Regions from separate parts of the Homo sapiens genome. Here region 1 is linked to region 2. Evidence: fine-mapped expression QTL. A gene starts in region 2. The other region holds a variant in brackets. All regions are shown on one strand. Distances are between the middles of the regions. Region 1 has its middle 27 kb from the start of FOXB1. Region 2 holds the start of FOXB1 (forkhead box B1).

Evidence for each region.
Region 1: its variant is fine-mapped to the expression of FOXB1 in blood mononuclear cells (TOPMed, PIP 0.95).

What each region holds. Positions count from the first base shown.
Region 1 is chr15:59,974,193-59,979,571 of GRCh38, reverse strand. No RefSeq gene overlaps it. Among named protein-coding and RNA genes, the nearest start is that of FOXB1, 27 kb to the left of the region's middle. The variant T/C (reference allele first, on the strand shown) is at 2,996.
Region 2 is chr15:60,002,035-60,007,355 of GRCh38, reverse strand. FOXB1 (forkhead box B1) reads right to left here and starts at 3,045. Exons shown (of 2, transcript NM_012182.3): 1 at 2,713-3,045; 2 at 1-2,449. The coding sequence starts at 2,392. The coding sequence ends at 1,415. RefSeq lists a silencer at 452-746 and enhancers at 753-872, 953-1,032, 2,849-3,364.

The DNA of each region.
Region 1 (5,379 bases), 28 kb after region 2:
GATAATTAAGAAATTGTAGAGCACCTACAGGAAGGGATGGTTACATTTCTTTTAATACTATATTGGGCCGGCCGGGCGCGGTAGCTCATGCCCGTAATCCCAGCACTTTGGGAGGCTGAGGTGGGCGGATCACGAGGTGAGGAAATCGAGACCATCCTGGCTAACACGGTGAAACCCCATGTCTACTAAAAATGCAAAAACAAAAAATTATCCAGGCGTGGTGGCAGGTGCCTATAGTCCCAGCTACTTGGGAGGCTGAGACGGGAGAATGGCGTGAACCCGGGAGGCGGAGCTTGCAGTGAGCTGCGGTCGCACCACTGCACTCCAACCTGGGCGACGGAGCGAGACTCCATCTCAAAAAAAAAAAAAAAAAAAAAAAAAAGTATTGGGTCATTATTCTTGTATCTGAAAAAAAAGTTTGAATTCTGCTGGTTGTCATCATGTTTTGGACTATTGAAATTCTTATGTTTTTCTGGCCCTATTTTTGCTTGTTAATTATCAAAATAACATAACTGACATCTACACAATAGGTCAAACTTTAAAAAATTCATAGCTTTTAATTTTCATTTTGTTTATATTTATGCTATGTGAACATCCTGCATTTTAGAGTTTGTATATTACTTTGGGGAATAACTGCAGAGTCTTCCCGTTTACATAATTGTATTTAATGATAAAAAGAAAACCATGATGTCATGATGCCTGTGGTCCTCTGATGTTCTTTGTTATCAATTAAAAAATAAACTAGATTTTCTAATTCCCCAGTTCCTTGAAGATTTATTTTAAAAAGTGACCTGAATTTTTTTAACTTCATGCAAAAATGTTGCATTGTTTACAAGATGAATATTAAAATGATACAATTAGAATGAATAGTGATTTCCTTTGAGGTTCTCTTGAGAAAGAAAGTGCGACACCCAGACACCTTGGGATATCGCATGAAACGTATATGTTATCTACAAACCTGATTTGATATTAATGTATTCTACTCATCAAGTTTATTTTCCCTGTTGACTGAAGTTAACATTAATCCTTTAATTTGCAAATACTACAGTTCTAAAAATTACGTTTCCAAGTTGTTCGCTGGTGGTTATGCTATATGGTGTCATTGTAAACTCACTTCTGAGAAGATTATTTACAGTTACTCTAGAAGATGAAATTATCTCCAACATGTCTTTCTTGCAAAATTAGTGGAAATACTGGTTGCTATTAAACATGATCAGCTGCTATGACAGCAGGGTACTTGTAAAAAAAATTACTTACTATCTCTTTGTTTTCAGTCTTCACTGAGGTGAATATATTTAATGTAATTATTCAGCTGCTAACCAGCCACTGATGTTAACTATCTCTGTTTAAATAAAGTGCATCTTAAACAAAATCTATGCCACACCAAAGGTTTTATTTTTTTTCTTAAGAATTCTATTTTGTGTTTATATCTAGAAAAGGAATTTAATGAAGTATTGTGCTTTCTAAGCCCACACGTATTATTACACAGAGAAAATCTGATCATTCTTGTATCTTCAGAAAGGGTGGCATCGTGTCAAATTAAAATTTTGGATTTCTTAATCAGCCAGTGATTTATAAGACAATTTGGGGACAATTTACTTTATGAGTGCCTCAATTTACCTTTTCAACAGCAATGAAAACTTCGTGAGACTCTTTTGTATTTAGTGAAATACACTGGAACAAAGAGATGAAAACAGCGAGTGAACTATAAACTTCTCTTCTATTCTTATTATAGAAAAAATTACTCCAAGCCAGCAATGGGCAAAATATGTAAATATAATGCCCTTAGGTATACATGTAGTGCCTGTTGATTTCAAGGGAAGCCATGCAAATGTATATGAATAGAATTTGATTCTGAGTCTCTTCAGTTGGCTCAACAATTTAGGTTTTCAGTTATATTTATGTTTTACTATATCCCCCAAACAGCTCACAGAATAAATGTATTTTATGTCTTGAATCATCAGCCGGTCTTAAAACTGCTCTTTCTTTCTCTATGTAAATATTCCGACGTAGCTGGTTGCCTAACAAGCTTGCTTAACCATCCAGCAAACTTCGAATCCAAGGCCTATTCATACTTCTTGGTTCTGATATATGACTTTAAACTGGAAAAGAATCTTTTCAAAAATACGTTGCTCCCCAAGCATCACTCTAAGGAACAGAATGTAGCTGGGTTGGCTATTATTTGGGGGTTTGGAAACGCGGCTTAATGATATTCATATTAGAAATGATAAACCTGGAGAGTTATAACTTCTGTCTCCAATATATTAAGTCTGAACTTTGGCTCAACTGCTATTTTGATGGAAAGGTTTGTGCTGTTTCCTGCATTTATTTGAGTTGCCAGACTTCTTAAATGGCTTTTAAATATCTTAAGTAGAGCAATTCACTATTATATAGTAATTTTGTAGTTCTTTATGTTATTACTTGTTGAAAGTTACAAGCAGTGCATTTTTTGTTTCAAAACAAATTTCTATACCCAGCACAATTTCCAGTTTATAGTAGGTGCTCAACAAATACCTGTTAAGTAGATGAATATCAGCTGCTTCTGTATTCTTTTGATTCCTTGCTCTTGCTGTACCTGCATAACCATGAGTTCCAGGTGTCACACTATTGTACCCCACCTTCTACTCTAAAAAATATCAAAATAGGACCTTCGTTCAAGGTCCAACCAGAAAGAAGGAATCACTCTTCTTAAATCAGAGGAAATTTATTTAGTGCAAAGAACAGGTTACACAGGTGCAGAAAGAGCTGAGAAGATGAAAAGAGCACAAGAAAGCAACACAGAGGTTAGCAGTAGCAGGAAGCTACACGCCTAGACTGGAGGGACAAAGGGAGGAAGTGGAGTGGAGGAAGTGGTGTTACCACAGCTCAGAGGCTGGGGGCACCTGATGGAAGCTGAAACCACAGAAGACCATTCTGATAGACACTGATACTAAAGAGGTGATGCAAGAACGTGATACCCGACAGGCACCAGAAGCAGAGAACGGAAGAGGTCCTC[T/C]GGCTTCTCTCTTCCTTCTGCCCTCCTATTTCTCATTAGCCAAACACTGTAAAATGCCCGTTGACATGGGGGCATATGGAAGGCAGCCTGCAAGCCTCCCCAGCCCCCTAGACTGAGCAGAGCAGGGAAGGACAAATAATAGATCTGAGAGCAAACAGGCCATGACCTGATCCACTACCAAAGGAAGATATTTGGGAATAATAATAATAATATTTTAGAATAATATATTTGGCAATTTTGTGCTTTCCATTCCCTTCTGACATATCCCTGCCTGCCAGTCACTCTGCCCATTAACTCCTATCCCAGTGTGGCCTCACCAGTGATACTTCACCAGTCCTTTGATCCTGAGAGCCCTTCATGAGGCATAATCCAAGATCAGACAGCTGGCCCTGTACTTTACATGCCACTCGATCACCCATTACAGAGGAATCCAGCCCAGTGGACCTTGCTCCAGAACTTATCCCCCAGCCTCGCAGCTGATTTCACTGCCAGAGATGGTGGATGATTCTCCTGAGCTCCTGGTGGAGAGAGCAATGCGATCTTGGTTACCCAGGCCAACTTCCAAGCTTTTAGTGGTGTGATTAGGGCAGCCTCTGCGTCACCACAATTCCACCCTTATATTTTTCAATGAAGATTTTTTCTTTGGCAATTATTGTCCTTCACATTTTATGCTTCATTTATAAGAGTCTAATTTGCATTGCAACGTACAGACAAGCTACAAATTAAGACATCTTATTACGATTATCACTATTCATAACATTTTTCACTAGGCATCTGCTTTGATTTCTACAACAACCACATGATGTTAAGGCAGAGTTTCCCACCATTGGCACTATTGTCATTTTGGGCTGGACAGTTCTTTGTTGTGGGTTGTCCTGTGCACTGTGGCATGTTTAGCAGCACCCCTGACCTCTATTCACTGGATGCCAGTGGCACAGTGGCACTCCCCTCCCCCTACTTGTGCCAACCAAAAATGTCTCCAGACTTTGTCAGTTGTCCCATGAGGGATGAAAATCACCCTTCTTTGAGAACCACTTTGTTAAGAGGAGTACAATTATCGTGATCCACATTGTACAGATGAAAATACGAAGGTCAGAGATGTTAAGGAAGCATTCCAGGGATTTTTTACTTATACACCATCATATATTTTAACTTTTTACATAGGCTATACGTCAAATATCAATAAGAAATTCCTGGGGTGAAAAATTTGCTGGTCTGGGGCAAAGTTAAAACTGGGACCCAAAATATAAGGAAAAAAGGCAATATTTACTATTTTGAAATCCATTTCTAGGCCCTAGAAATTAAAGCAAGAATCTTGATTTTGATAACTGAAGGTTTGTATAATATTATCCTAATAGCTCTGTGTTATAAGAAATTGAGTGTCAGGACTACTGGGGACAGCCCTGGAATTTACTAAGCAGGGAAAACAGCACTAGTGGCTTTCTATCTGGCATTGACGTAATGACTAAATTTTTTTCCCTATATTTAAAATCTTTGGTTTCTTCAAGATAAGAACACCTTAATTTCCCTGATCACATCTGTCTGCTCACTAATGTGCATGTTTTCCTCTTTGTCAGCAGTTGGCTACCAGATGAAGTTTAGATAAATGGTTGTCAGCTTCCCTTACACTTGTTATGATGAGGTTTGGATGAAAGACTTACAGCAGATACTCTCAATGAGAAGAGTCCTGCACTCTCTGCAGTTCATTGAACCCATATGGATCAGAACAGCTGGAAGGATGGATATGCTACCTGAGGCCAGCAATTGTGTCGCCAACCATGACTCCCACTTGCTGACCCTCGTATAATGCATTGCAGTTCAGGGAACGTTGATCACTCCTTTCCATTTTGTGATGGATGGTGCCGTTTAAAACTGATGGCCTTGGAAACCACTGGTGAGTTTCTACATCTCACAGATGCAAGTGAGGCAGATAGTCAATAAATAATGGCATGTACTAGAGAAACATACACTGCTCTCCACCATGTGGGCTAAATGGTCCTGCCAACAAGCAAGGGTGACATTAGCTTAGGCCTGGAATGGAAAGGCATCTAGAAAAAACTATTTCTGGCTGGTACTGTTATAAGAAATACATGCTTCTTTCTGGACCTGTGTTTAAGATTGCTTTATGCATGTTGCTTGATTCTAGGGTGGCGCTAAAGCACCTGCACTACCTAGATGTTAATCTATGGCTAGCAAAGTGATAGCAACGCTTAAGAGGACAAAGCTTTACTGAATTAGATGCACTAATTAGGGCTGGAGTTTTGGGTACCACTTCATGGAAGGCAATTTTCTTCAGTCGTGTAAAGCTTGGCGAGGCATTCAGAATCATCTGGAAAGACTGCCATGATTGACACTGTTAAAGTTTTACATCATTCACAAACTCC
Region 2 (5,321 bases):
AAAACAGGCATGCTGGGAACAAGAACATCAATATTTAAAATGCCACGCTAATTCTGTACAGGGAGGGAAAATGAAAGGTAAAAATTTTACAGCTCTGATGACACTACAACTTTTTTTTTTTTTAACTTAAGCAGGTCACACCAGAACAACAGTTCGTTTTCCAGCCAATTATCTAAGATTCTAAAGGAATACAGCAAACAAAAGTGCATTTTACACAGTGTATAATCATTCCTATTCACAAGTATTTACATCTCTTTGCAGCCCTTTAGCTTCTTGGAAAAGTTCTGGTAGCAAACAGAAAGACTTGTCCGTGGGAGAGCTATCCGGTGACATCCCTTCATGTTACCAGTCAGCTTATCTAAGTTCTTCCCGGGTTGCCCTTGATGCTTTCTTGGTTTGGGCTTATTTCATTTTCTTTCCTTCTTTTTTTTTTTTTTTTTTCCCAACAATAAAATAAATAGCTAAAAAGGTCTCTAAGTCATCGGAAAGTTAACATCCCAATTAACTTTCCCATCCCCACTTCCCTCCCTTTCTAAACCTGGCCAGAAATGAAGAGTAAACATTCACATTACAACAGGTACTTATAATGTGGGCTTTGCCCGTTCGTCCGCCTAGCAAGACAGATTCAAGTTCACTGTTTACATATTACTGGGCGCTTTGTAAACAATACAAGGTTACTTTTAGTTTTGTTTTGCTGTGTGAGGACGAGCGTCGCTTTCTCAGCTTGGCAGCCTCTTTCCTAACTCCCAGCGCCTGGAGCCTCTGGAAGGAAACAAAACCCCAAACAACAACAAAATCTCCGCAGAAGCCTAGGAGGCAGGGCCGCAACCCCGGGAAGCTGTGGTCGGCCCAGCCCCTGCCGGATGGGCGGAGGCGAGTGGGGTAGGAAGATTAGTGGCTCCTTTTTGCTGCAGATTTCCAAGACGTAAAGAGATCCGGCCCTCCCCTGCGCTGTTGCAGCCCTCGCGGGGAGGGGGTGTGGGGGGGATCTGTTCCTGGAAACATCTGAGGCAGTTTCTCTAGTCTTGAAACTGCGCAGAGTTCGGGGCTCCGCCGATCTGGGCGGAGGGAAGACGCGCTTTTCTCGGCGAAGAGGGGGTGACAGGGTTTCCCCCGCCGGTCAAATAGGAGGGGGTTTCGGGGCCTCAGGGAGGGGATGGTTCGGCTCAGGTGGCCCCGGCCTTCCTTGATGTGGGGGCGAGGACAACTCCCACGCGCCTCTCGGCCCATCTGCAAGTTTGTGTTTGGTCTCCTGGGTCCAAAACAAAGTTCTCTTGGGGCAAGGCGGGTTGGCCGAAGGTGAAATGAACAAGTTAGGGTGGCGGTCCCAGGTGGGGGCCGGCAGGACTGGGAGCCAGGGAAGGCGAGTGAGGTGGTGGGGAGGAGAACGAGAGGGGGCGTGGGCTCCTGCGGGTCAGTGCACCGCCACCGAGTGCAAGGCGGAGGCCGGGCTGGTGAGCGTTTCGCTGGGGGTGGCGGGGCTGCTTTGGCTGGTGGCTGTTTGCGAGGACGTGGGGCTGAGCGAGGGCGGCGAGTTCGAGAGCAAGGTGGGGATGGGCGCTGGCAGCGCAGGCAGCGCGGGCACGGCGGCCGGCGTGGGCTTAATGGGCACGGGGATGGCGGGCAGCGTTTGGCCCGCCGCGTGGCACAGCGGCTTCAACGGCACGCCGTAGGCGCTGTAGTCGCCACTCGCCATGGAGATGGGGGTGGCCGAGTCGATCATGCCGGCGGAGCCATACACGTGTGGCCAGCCGGTGCCCAGCGAGCTGCCCATGGTAGTCAACTGGTTGGGGAGCGGGTAGGCAGCGGGCACCGGCTGCATGGCGGAGAAGGCCAGCCCCCCAGGCATCTTGTATTCCCGCGCGATGATGTTCTCGATGGCGAAGGGGTGCTTGAAGCCCGAGGGCTGCGCCACGCCGCCCAAGTTGTAGGCGGCGGCGGGCATCTGTGGCAGGTGCGTGCCCGAGGCCGCCAGCGCGCTGAGCCGCAGCTTGGCCTGCTGCTGCAGGTACTGCGCCGCGTCGGCTGGCTTGCTGGGCGCCAGGTGGTCGGACTTAAGCACCTTGAAGCGCTTGCGGCGCCGCAGGAAGCTGCCGTTCTCGAACATGTCCCCGCAGCTTGGGTGCAGCGCCCAGAAGCTGCCCTTGCCTGGCTGGTCCGGCCGCCGCGGGATCTTGATGAAGCAGTCGTTGAAGGAGAGGTTGTGGCGCAGACTGTTCTGCCAGCGCTGCGTGTTCTCCCTGTAGTAGGGGAAGCGGTCCATGATGAACTTGTAGATCTCGCTCAGCGGCAGCATCTTCTCGGGAGAGCTCTGGATGGCCATAGCGGTCAGCGAGATGTACGAGTAGGGCGGCTTCTGGTCGCTGTACGTGTTGCGGCCGGGCCGAGGCATCTTCTTCCTCGCCCTCTTCTTGCTCTGGGTCCGCGCGGGCCGGCGGACTGCTCGGATCTGGGAAGGGGGTGGGTAATAGGGAAAGGTAGCATGGATGCACAGAGACACCGGCGGGGTCAGCCAGACCGAGTAACAGACTTCGGGGGTCGGGGGTGGGGCCTGCGGCGCTCGATCAGCCAGCGCCCGGACTCTTTCGCCAGCAACTTTGCGGGCTTAGTGGGCGCGGGAGGGGAAGCCGGCGAACGGCGCGAGGATAGCCGGGAAGTAAGTCGGTACTGGGGCCAGAATAGGGGGCAGGGACGGAACAGAGAGCTGCTCACCTTAAAGTTGCTTCAAGTTGCGCGTCCGCATCCGGGAGGACGCCGCTGCGCGCCGCTTCTCTCTCGGCGCGCACTCGACGCGCACTCCGCGCGCAGCGTCCGGGTCCGGTTGGACTCGGCGCGAACCTGGGCTCTTGAGCTCAGCCCCGCAGCGTCCCGTGCCGCCCGGTCCGCGACGCTCCTGGAGCGTCCTGCGGGCGGCCGAGCTCGGCTGCGGAGTCCCGGCGCGGATGGTGGCAGCGACGTGTTAGGGCTCCGGAGGGCGCTGCTGTGGGCTCCGCGTCTCCGCTGAGCTAGGTGGCTGCCTCCATGTCCTCCCTCGAACCATCTGATAGTTTTAAGCGGTGACAGGAGCAGAAAAGACCCCTGTAGCGGCGCTTCATTAATGTGCCACTTCTTAGCTATCATATGACAATCGCCTTGGGAGGAGGAGGAAGAGGAGGGGGAGCGGGGGCTGCAGAGGGAGGGGACTGAGCGAGAAGGGAGAGCCCGGCCAGCTCTGGTTTCTTTCACACCTATTTACATGGACACCTTGGCCAATAGGAATCACTTCCAGCTCAAGACTGGGCGAGGGGGAAGAGCCTCGGCCACTGGGCAGGCAGCTGGACGCGCCGGCCGGTGTGCGCCGTGTGAAGGTATGAGGAAGCGGCCGCCGCGGAAGAGGGAGCCAGGCGACCACTCACGTTCACAGATGGAGCAGCCGCGCGGATGATGTTTGACATGGAAATTGCTTGGCTGGGGTATTCTGTTTCCTCTGCGTTGTATCCGGTTTGTATCGTTAGGTAACTTTAGGCACGGCTTTCCCCTGAAGCCGACCCTTTTCCTGCGCTTAGCACTACCCGGGGTTGGTTGCATGGGTTATAATAATGAAAACACACCCTTGCCCCCCAGTCCCCGGAGAGTTAGGTCGAAATTTGACTTGACTTTCCTATGCAGCTGCTTCAGCTTTGTATAGTTAGTGTGTAGCTTTGAAAAAGTGATGGGGTTTACAAATACTTTCAAAATGTGATTGGACATCCCCATGTAAGAACCCATTTTGAATGTAACTGTATTGACCAAATTTTTAAAAATTAAAATAGTGTATCTGGGCGAAGAGTCCAGGTATTTGCTTTAAAAGTCCTCCGGGAATTTGGTTGGACACAGGATGGAGGCTCAGGAGCTGTTGGGGCAAATGTTGTGCGGACCTGGGGAGGGCCTGAGTTTGTTTGACACAGTTTATCACCAGGTAAGCCTCAGGGGCTCTCGCTTTTCCCAGGTGGTTTGAAACTTTAGGACTCAGGCACATCCTGGAAGTTTTCATTTTACACCCGGAACTCCCCTTCCCAGCCCTCCCACCCCCCCAACCTCCCACCCCCCATCCCCCAACTGCCGCTTTTTTTGGTATGGAGAACTTATTTAGGATTTAGAGTGTAGCAAAAGCCGCCTGCGATCCCACTAAGACAGCAGTATCTTCTACAACTTGGGGAAAGAACCATAGAGTTTTCCTTCTTGGGGAGCGGGGAATGTGCCTTGGGTCACTCCGCCTGGTGCGAGCAGCAGGCTCCCTTCGGTTCGGATTCGCCTTGGAAGGGTTAAATGAATCATTATTATTATTATCATTATCCTCATCGTCGTCGCTGCCGTCATCATCATCATCATCAAATTGCTATGAAATAAATAGTGAGTCGACCCCGCCTGCATGCACGCACTCTATAAGTACACACCAGGAGTTCCCACGGGTTTCTGCACATTCTCCGACCTTTAAGGTTTTTAAAAGACATTCATTTTACTGCGTTGTTAAAAACTCAATACTTACAGCCCACACAGAATCATCTTCAAAGTCCAGAAATGGGAGAACTTTTTTTTTCCCTAGACGTGGTGATCGTAGAGAATTCTGGGTGTTAAGTTTCAACACTTTAAGTGATATTAGAGCATTATTAGTGGAGCTGTTTGGGGTTAGCATAAAAAAGATCTTTCAGCGCGCGAATGCACACACACACAAACACACACACACACAACTTCATTAACTACAGTTTCGGAGGCGGTCAATAACTCACCAAAACGTAACTTAAACACGATGAATTTAGGAGATTAAACAATTTCATTAATATTGAAATGGCTCTGGCTCTGGGCTGCCTCGGTTGAGATGCAAGCGCACGTTTTTCAATATTAACAGAAGTGCTTGAAGAAAAGAATAATGTCACCTTCTTAATTCGGAAAAAATAACTGGGAGGAGGAGATGGGTGCGAGGGGCTGGGGGAGGGATGTTGACCTGTCTCTGGGGGTATGGCTCGAGAAGGGCAGATAAATGTATTGCCCTTCTCAGCAGATAAACCACTTGGACTCGGGTGGAACCTCTGCCAAGCTTTGGCCGGAGGCAGCCGTACTCATCCCAGCTACTCGCGCTTCAGGTCATAACGAGGTGCGGCGTTTGGGGGGTTACTTTGTGCGGCCAGATTCGGATCGAAGGTCCTGGGGAGGAAGGAGCTGGGGAGTCCAAAGAGCTGGGGAGCTTGGGAGATCCGTGATGAGGAATAGTGGGCAAGGCTTGTGTTTCCCAGAATGGAAAGGCGCTGGTCCACAGCTTTCCTGCTCCCGAGTACAGCTGGCCTCGGTACAAAACAGTTACT